Regions from separate parts of the Homo sapiens genome. Here all the other regions are linked to region 1. Evidence: fine-mapped expression QTL. A gene starts in region 1. Each other region holds a variant in brackets. All regions are shown on one strand. Distances are from middle to middle. Region 1 holds the start of RGS10 (regulator of G protein signaling 10). Region 2 overlaps RGS10 (regulator of G protein signaling 10). Region 3 has its middle 26 kb from the start of RGS10.

Region 1 (2,757 bases):
CACTGTGCAGAACCTCATTCTGCAGAAAGGTCCCACGGCTGGTGAATATGGCGAAGGTGAGATTCGGATCCAGCCAGTCTGGTCCCAGTCTCTAAACCACAATGTCCCTCATAAAATACCAGGAGCAGAAAGGAAATGCACCAACGCGTTGGGACTCTGAGCGCCAAGCAGAAGTGAATCTTGGCGTGGGAAGCCCGGCAAAGCCCCCGAACTTCAGAGTCAGGGGAACCTGGGTTTGAAAGCCTCCCCATCACCTGCGGAGTGTGACTGGGGCAAGTTACCTAACAGCGCCTGGCTTCCGCTCCCTCCTCACTCACCGGGTTGTCCTAGGGGTGAAGGGAGAGTTCACCCAACGCGGTGGACAAAGCCCTTGGCGCACCCAAAGGCCTGCACAGGTCGTAGCTATTGTGATGAGCAAAAGGGTGGAAGGACCGGAATCAAGGGCACGGCTCCACCTTCACCGTGGGGTCTTTGGCCTATCAAGTTGCCCGAGATCGTGGCTCAGGCTGGCCCAAAGTGACGGCCAAGGCGAATCCTTCGTAACGTCAGAACTTCGCTGGCTCGGACCGCAGAAGTGCCCTTCTCCATCCTGGGGTTCCGCCACCCTCGCGATCCCACCTTTTGGCTCCTCGCGGCAGAAGCGAAGGCCCCCGACGCCCCAGGCCCAGGGGCCCAGTCGGATGCCCGGGTCCAGCCGTGCTCCCCCGGGCGCTCGGCATCCTTCCACCCACGCCCGCAGCGGAGGCGGAGAGCGTCACGGAGGGAGAAGCCCGCGCGCCGTTCCGCTTTCGGAATCTGGAGCCCCATGTCACCTCCAAAGTTTGGAGATTTGGGGCGCTCCTTTTTCTCCCAGACCATCACTAAAAAGAAAACTGCGGCTGTTCCTCTTTCAGCCAAACTTCCTCCCCGGGGCTCCCGGAGGAGCTCTGCGCTCCCGTCGCGGCTGGGACCGCGAAGGTGCGGTACCCAGCGGGGAGAGGTGGTGCGGTCGGCCGGGGCTCCAGTCTGGGAGGTACCACCGAGCCGCGCCCGAGCACAAGAGGGAGGGCAGGAGGCCGGGCGGGCGAAACGGCGCCCCGACCCCGAGCCCGCGGGCCCCCGAAGCCGCTTACCTGACGGCGGCCGCTTCCTGCTCAGCCGGCTCACGGCGCGGTTGAACATCGCCGCGGGCGCCCGAGGAGGAAGAAGGAGCAGCCCGGCGGCGCGGCGGCTGAGCCGGAGGAAGGCGAGGAGGAGGAGGAGGGCGAGGAGGAGGAGGAGGAGGGCAAGGAGGAGGAGCGGGCTCAGCACCGCCCCGGAGCTCTAGGTCCCCGCCCGCCGCCCTCCTCCTAGCCAGGCGCCGCGTGGCGCGCTCAGTGCGCCCTGCCCGCCCCCGCTGGTGAGGACTCGCGGTTCCGCTCCGGGGTGCCCGGGCGGGGCAGGGCAGGGCAGCCCCGGGTGACCCCCGATCGCCCAGAGTGTGCCCCGCGCCTGGGATAAGGTGCACTGGCCCAGAGGGAGCCCGCGCCGCCGGGAACTTAGTAGCCCCGCGGAGGCGGTTAGCGCGTCCCGGGGTCCCTGGCCCTCGCCTGAGATGCCGCCCCGGCCCGCCCCGCCCAGCTTCAAGCTCCCGGGCCCATCGCGGTCTCCCGCCTTCTCCCTGTAGCCCCGGAGAAACTGGCACGGCGCCGCGGGCGCACCGCGCTTCGGGGCTCTCAGCGAGCCTTCGCAGGTGGCGGGCGGGGTCCCCTCCCGGGTCACAGGCTGGGAAGCCTAGGCCTCGCGGTTCTGCAGAGTCCGGGCGCGGCCCAGCCTGTGGCCTTTGCCTCCTCGTCACCAGGATCCCCGCCTGCTGGGGCCTGGCTGCTCCTCGACTTCGTGGGCGCTGCGCCTTCCCGCCCCGCGAATGCGGGTGGGGCGTCCCCAGGGCCCGTGCGCTGAGCTAGCCGAGCCGCCGCGGGTGGGCGCCCTCTCCCCGGCCGTGCCGCGCGGGCGCCAGGACTCGGGGAGATCTGAGAGGATTCTGCAGGAACCCCCCGGTTCCTGCGCCGGGCGGTGCTCTGTCCCGCACACCGCGCTCTCGGGACACTTCTCTAACTTTGGGGACACGTGGGCACTGCCTCTGGCAGGGCCTTCAGGCTCCACGACCGGGACCACTCAAGCCCCCACGGCGTCACCTGCTGGGCGCTGCGCGCTCTACGGTCTCCTATTATTTCATTTCTTCTATGGAGCAGCCCCAGAGGGGATGTCATTAGCCCCCATTTTCTTGAACATTTGGTTTGCAAGAAATTGTCTTTCTGGCGAGTTTTATTTTTCTCCTTGTGTATCTGGCTTTGTCTCTAAATTGGTCTTTATTTTTAGCTGTACTAATTGCTATTTTTCCAAACCGTTCCCCAGTCGCCCTCCCCCCATCCCCCCGTCCTTTTGCAGTTTTTTTCACTACTTGGCACTTTCTTTTGTATCTTCTATTCTGAGCTTCCAGTTCTGCTCACTTTCCCTCTCCCTCTACCCACCCCACAGCCCCAGTTGCACCCCAAGTGTGGCCGGTGGTTGCTTGTTGTTTCCCTCCCCGCTATTCCCCCTCCAAAAGTCGTTTTCCTCCGAGCATTTCCAAGCACTCTCCCCCTTCTGCTGCCAAAAGAGGATTTCCAGGCTCCTGAAGCGAACGCGGTGACCAAGAACAGGGTTAGACCCAGCGCGGGGAGTTCTGCTTTTAAAACTGCTGTTGTTGGCCTACTCCGGGCCCAGACAAACTTCCATCTCATTGTAATGGGATCA
Region 2 (2,757 bases), 43 kb before region 1:
GTTGGGAGGCTCACACGCAACAGAAGCTGGTCACTTTGTACAAATAGAAAGGGCTTAGCAAACATCCTGGAAAAGGCCTGGTGGCAGCACCCAACCCCCTACAAATAGCAGGAACAATTCACCAAAGGGAACTGAGCCTGACCTTGGCCCTGGTGGGCTCTGCTCTAAAAGTGGAGTTCCTGGGCTGGCGGGGACAGCCTGGCCCAAGCGTGCCCCGCCTGGCCCAAGCGTGCCCCATTCACAGCCTCCTCACCCAAGAAGGGCAGGCTTCAAGGCAGCATTTCTTTTCCCCGTTGAAGTCTCAAGCCAGAGTTAGCAAGTTCAGCAAAGGGCAGGAGCAGAGAGGAAAGGATTATGATGTGTCCCCGATGGGTACAGGAGAAGGGAACAGCCCCACCAACTCCAACCTCAGTACGCACCTGTGCTACAATCCCATTCAACAACACCTTGAGTTGCCATGGGGACCCTGAACAATTTCCCACTTGTGTTTTTTTTCCTTCCTGGTTGAGATCTTGTTTCTGTCAAGATGAACTATTTATCTGTGTTGCATGAAATGTCATGGGTTGTGGTCAAAACCAGGACCAACCCACGCACAAGAAATAATAACCCTTTGATGACACTCACACACAAGCTTCCCAAGTCTTTAGAGGCTGTCAGTGATTCATTTTCTTTTTCCAGCACTGAACTTGCTCTCGAGAAATATTTAACCCAAAAGGCGACTGGCAGGCCATACCCCCAGTAGCCTGGGTTTGCCGGATCAACTCATGTTTGAGTTAATTTACCAAGTGACCTGTGGACATGCGTCCACTCACCAGAGAGGCAGAGCAAACACTTACAAGGTAAAAGGTAGTGTGATACGTTTCACCTTGTGGCCTTACATGAGGTTTAATTAAGCTACAAAATGCTCGACGTGTCCAGTGTTGAAGGAATCTCTGTTTTGTAAACTAAAACTTCCAAGTTATTATTATTCTTTTTTTATGTTAGCTTAGCCATCATGCAAAATTTACTGGTGAAGCAGTTAATAAAACACACATCCCATTGAAGGGTTTTGTACATTTCAGTCCTTACAAATAACAAAGCAATGATAAACCCGGCACGGTCCTGAGAGGAAATTCCTTTGCTTCTTAAAGCTGCCAGTCC[C/T]GGCTTTTTGGGGGCTCATGTGTTATAAATTCTGGAAGCTCTTTTAGCTGCAGTTTGAGCATCAGGCAAATCTTCTTCCTCTTCCTCGGTTCGCTTGTGTTTTAAAAACAAGTCAGACTTTAAGAAGCGGCTGTAGCTGTCGTACTTCATGAGATTAAAGATCTAAGGAGGAAAAGAAAAAAGAGTCTGAAGGCTGAGGCTAATCCAGGCCATAAATCATCCCATCAGATATGTATTAATACCTACCATGTGCCAAAGAATACTAACATGTGCAAAGAACACACTAAGAAAGCTCAAATAAGTCATCTGCTAGACAAGGCAGATTTCCTGGAGATTTTTGGTCATTATGCAATAATCTCAATGGAATATATAGACAGTCACATGAACAAATATGCCTTTATTTTCCACGGAAATATAGATTCACACAGCACTGATTCAGACCCTTGTACCAAGAAGTCCTTCAAGACTCTCCACTTTATTTGCCTAGATAAGACAAGGATGTATTTCTCCAAGAGCTTGAGACAGCCGAATAGAAACCATTTCTGTAGAGACAGTGGTGTTAAAAAGATCACTGACATATCATATGATGCCAGCATTGTTAAGACTCCCAGTAAGTCTGGCATCCGAGATCTCAAACAAACCTATTATTGTACCAGGAGTCAAAATGAGGCGTGCTCACTGCAGGGCAGGGCAGCAAAACTATAATCTTAGCAAGGGAACAGGTCCCAAATAAAGAATAGAGCAGCCAGCTGCAGAATGCCAACATCTGTGCCATCAGACAGGCTGGGGAGCACATCCCTAGAATGAAACAACTCTAAGGTATGTCAGGTGAGCGAAGAGGACACCCGACAGAGCTGAAGTGCCCCAGATTAGACGGCTGCCCCCGCCGGCATGGCAGGTGCTCAGAGGGCTGTCCCCAGGCACAGTAGCTTCCTCTGGCCGCCACTGAACCTCTTTTCTGGGCCACAGTCCTTGTGACCAGCATTCATTCTCCCCCACTGCTACCCAATCCTGTGCCATCTGCCCTCCTCCCTTGCCCCAGGAAAGGGGCAGAGAAAGAGAAGCACAAAGCCTTTTCCAGCTGTCAAGGGCTATGATCTCTTTCCCACCCCTCATTTCTCTCTCTCTCAGACCTTTCCACTTAACTCGCAGTACACTCTGCAACTAAAAATCCACATGGTTCACCCTGGTACACGGAACAACCAAGTGGAAAGTTCCAGAGATGTCTAGAATGTCACTGACTGCCAGGCGGGGTTGTCAAGTGGATGGTAAAACCCTGACATCTTTTAAGGCTGCCCTCTCCCAACACACATACACTATTTTGTAAATTAAACATCTGAGGGTGCTGGGGGCGGTGGCTCACACCTGTAATCCCAGCACTTTGGGAGGTGGAGGCAGGTGGATCACTTGAGGTCAGGAGTTCAAGACCAGCCTGGCCAATATGGTGAAACCCCGTCTCTACTAAAAATACAAAAATTAGCCGAGCGTGGTGGCACACACCTGTAGTCCCAGCTATTCAGGAGGCTGAGGCCAAAGAATCACTTGAACCCAGGAGGCAAAGGCTGCAGTGAGCTGAGATCACACCACTGCACTCCAGCCTGGGCAACAGAGTGAGAC
Region 3 (2,757 bases), 26 kb after region 1:
AGGCCAATTAATTTAATTTTAATTACTTTTTTATTTATTTTTGAGAGGGAGTCTCGCTTTGTTACCCAGGCTGGAGTGCAGTGGTGTGATCTCAGCTCATTGAAACCTCCAACTCCAAGGTTCAGGCAATTCTCCTGCCTCAGCCTCTAGAGTAGCTGGGACTGCAGGTATGTGCCACCATGTCCAGCTAATTTTTGTATTTTTAGTAGAGACAGGGTTTCGCCATTTTGGCCAGGCTGGTCTTGAACTCCTGGACTCAAGTGATCTGCTTGCCTTGGCCTCCCAAAGTGCTGGGATTACAGGCATGAGCCACCACACTCAGCCAATTTTTTTTTTTTTTTTTTTTTTTTTTTTTTGAGACGGAGTCTCGCCCTGTTGCCCAGGCTGGAGTGCAGTGACACAATCTCAGCTCACTGCAAACTCCACCTCCCAGATTCAAGCAATTCTTCCATCTGTCTCCCGAGTAGCTGGGATTACAGGCATACACCATCATGCCTGGCTAGTTTTTTGTATTTTCAGTAGAGACGGGGTTTCACCATGTTGGCCAGGCTGGTCTCGAACTCCTGACCTCAGGTGATCCACCCACCTCGGCCTCCCAAAGTGCTGGAATTACAGGTGTGAGCCACCACGCTCGGCCCCGATTTATTTATTTATTTTTTGAGACAGAGTCTCGCTCTGTTGCTCAGGCTGAAGTACAGTGGCACAATCTCAGCTCACTGCAACCTCTGCCTCTCAGGTTCAAGCAATTGTCGTGCCTCAGCCTCCCGAGTAGCTGGGACTACAGGCATGCACCACTATGCTCAGCTAATTTTTGTATCTTCAGTAGAGATGCGGTTGTGCCATGTTGGCCAGGCAGGTATCGAACTCCTGGCTTCAAGTGATCCACCTGCCTCGGCCTCCGTAAGTGCTGGGATTTCAGGCGTGAGCCACCGGCGCCCCGCCAGGCCAATTAATTTTATTTCAGACTACCTTCACCCACAACTGCAGAGTCTCAGAATCTACCTTTTCACAAGCACCCCACCAATTCTGATCAAGTTCTACTCAAATAGAACACGAGGTAATGTTCTGGTTTCAAGAGGGAGACTAAATAAAATACATGTTTACTTTCATTTCCTCTTATCATATTAATGTATTTAACATTTACTGAACACCTACCACATGCCAAGAACTGTTACAAGTACTAGAATTTGTGTAGTTAACAAACCAAGTCCCTGCCTTCGGGGAGCTTCAACCAAGGAATGAAGTTATCCATTTTTAAAAAATAAAATATATCCCTGGGTATAAGAAATGTGGATTTTAAAGGACATCCTAATCCCTGTCATTTTACTGAAAATGCTCAAAGGCAACTATTGTAAAACAGGACCATTTGCCCAACATTCTAATACACAAGTAGAACCCATATTGC[T/C]AAATAAAAACATACCTTAAAGGAAATTGAAAACAAACTATCAGGGCCATCTATCAGCAAACATGTTGGTAATATTTCATTTTCAATAGGCTGGTAAGTCTCCTGGTAAGTCTTCTAGTCTTGATAAAGTGTACACAGTCTTAAACCAGGAACATATTACATATCAACACCCCACCCGATTATCCATTCATGGCTTACTACACCTGCCCAGAATTGTCTAGTCTCAGGTTAATGTGCTCCTGAATCAAGGACTTATCCCTCCTTCATCATCCTTCGTCACTTTTTCCCCAATCTGAACCCTTATTAAACAAAGTATGAGTTATGCCATCTGCTAAAATATAACCTAGCCAGAGAAAATTAAAAATGTTTTTCAAGTTTAGTCCTCTTCAAAAAGTAGCAAGCTAAGATGATTAAATGTGTAGTCTCATTTTTTAAAAAGCTGTTAAGACTTACACATTAGCTTTATTTTTGTGAGCAAAAGCAATCGTACAAACCCAATATGGAACAACTCAATTCTTAACTTGTAACCAGTAAAGTGAACTGAATGTGAAAACCTGAAATTTATACAATAATTCTCAGAACATGCACAGTTGCATATGGCTACGTATTTCATGCTTTATTTTGTCTAGATGGTTTCAGACTTCTCTTTGCTGGTATACCAAAACGTAAGGAAGAAAGATAAAGGACCAGGAAAAAAAATTACACTTGGGCAAGTTATGGTATCTGCTGATTTTATACAGCAAAATCTGGTTTACCTTAACAATGCTGTAATTCTATAGCACCATGACAACCAGGCTTTTTGCAAAACTCTTGTCAGTTCCCAAGAAGGAAGGAAAGTGAAAAGAGGAGACCCACGGGCAAGCTAAGCCTCGCTGGAAGATCAACAACTGGACAGCTCACTCCTGAGATTCCTTTCCAGCATACAGTCGCCCTGGCTTTCCTCAAACGCTATCCAAAAGCACTTCAGTTTGATTCATGTTTGCAAACTTTCCAAGCTGACTCCAAGACGTTATTAGATGTGGATCACTCCCAGAGGAACATCTCAGAGAAACAATGGTTAGTGAATTCTTTAAAGTGCAATAAATTGGAACAGACAAAATTCGGCATATGTATTTTGAGTTGGAAAGTTAAGGAAATAATTTATTGAACATACTTCTTTTGTCCGCTGTTACTCTGATATTCTTGTTTAAAAACCAAGCCATCAAAGTTATGTAGATCATGTCTCTCTCTTCCCCCAAACAAAAGCTTAATTCTTTTTTTTTTTTTTTTTTTGAGACAGAGTCTCGCTCTGTTGCCCAGGCTGGAATGCAGTGGCATGATCTCAGCTCACTGCAAGCTCCGCCTCCCGGTTC

Evidence for each region. PIP is the estimated chance that this variant, and not a neighbour inherited with it, causes the effect. A credible set is the group of variants that fine-mapping cannot tell apart.
Region 2: its variant is the best candidate, but not a certain one, in a credible set for the expression of RGS10 in whole blood (TOPMed, PIP 0.84).
Region 3: its variant is the best candidate, but not a certain one, in a credible set for the expression of RGS10 in whole blood (INTERVAL, PIP 0.83).

The regions. Positions count from the first base shown.
Region 1 is chr10:119,541,478-119,544,234 of GRCh38, forward strand. RGS10 (regulator of G protein signaling 10) reads right to left here and starts at 1,242. Exons shown (of 5, transcript NM_001005339.2): 1 at 1,113-1,242. The coding sequence starts at 1,161. RefSeq lists silencers at 695-864, 915-1,654, 1,665-1,734, 1,785-1,944 and enhancers at 2,155-2,234, 2,497-2,757.
Region 2 is chr10:119,498,958-119,501,714 of GRCh38, forward strand. RGS10 (regulator of G protein signaling 10) reads right to left here. Exons shown (of 5, transcript NM_001005339.2): 5 at 860-1,302. The coding sequence ends at 1,156. Among named protein-coding and RNA genes, the nearest start is that of RGS10, 42 kb to the right of the region's middle. The variant C/T (reference allele first, on the strand shown) is at 1,141.
Region 3 is chr10:119,567,092-119,569,848 of GRCh38, forward strand. No RefSeq gene overlaps it. Among named protein-coding and RNA genes, the nearest start is that of RGS10, 26 kb to the left of the region's middle. The variant T/C (reference allele first, on the strand shown) is at 1,406.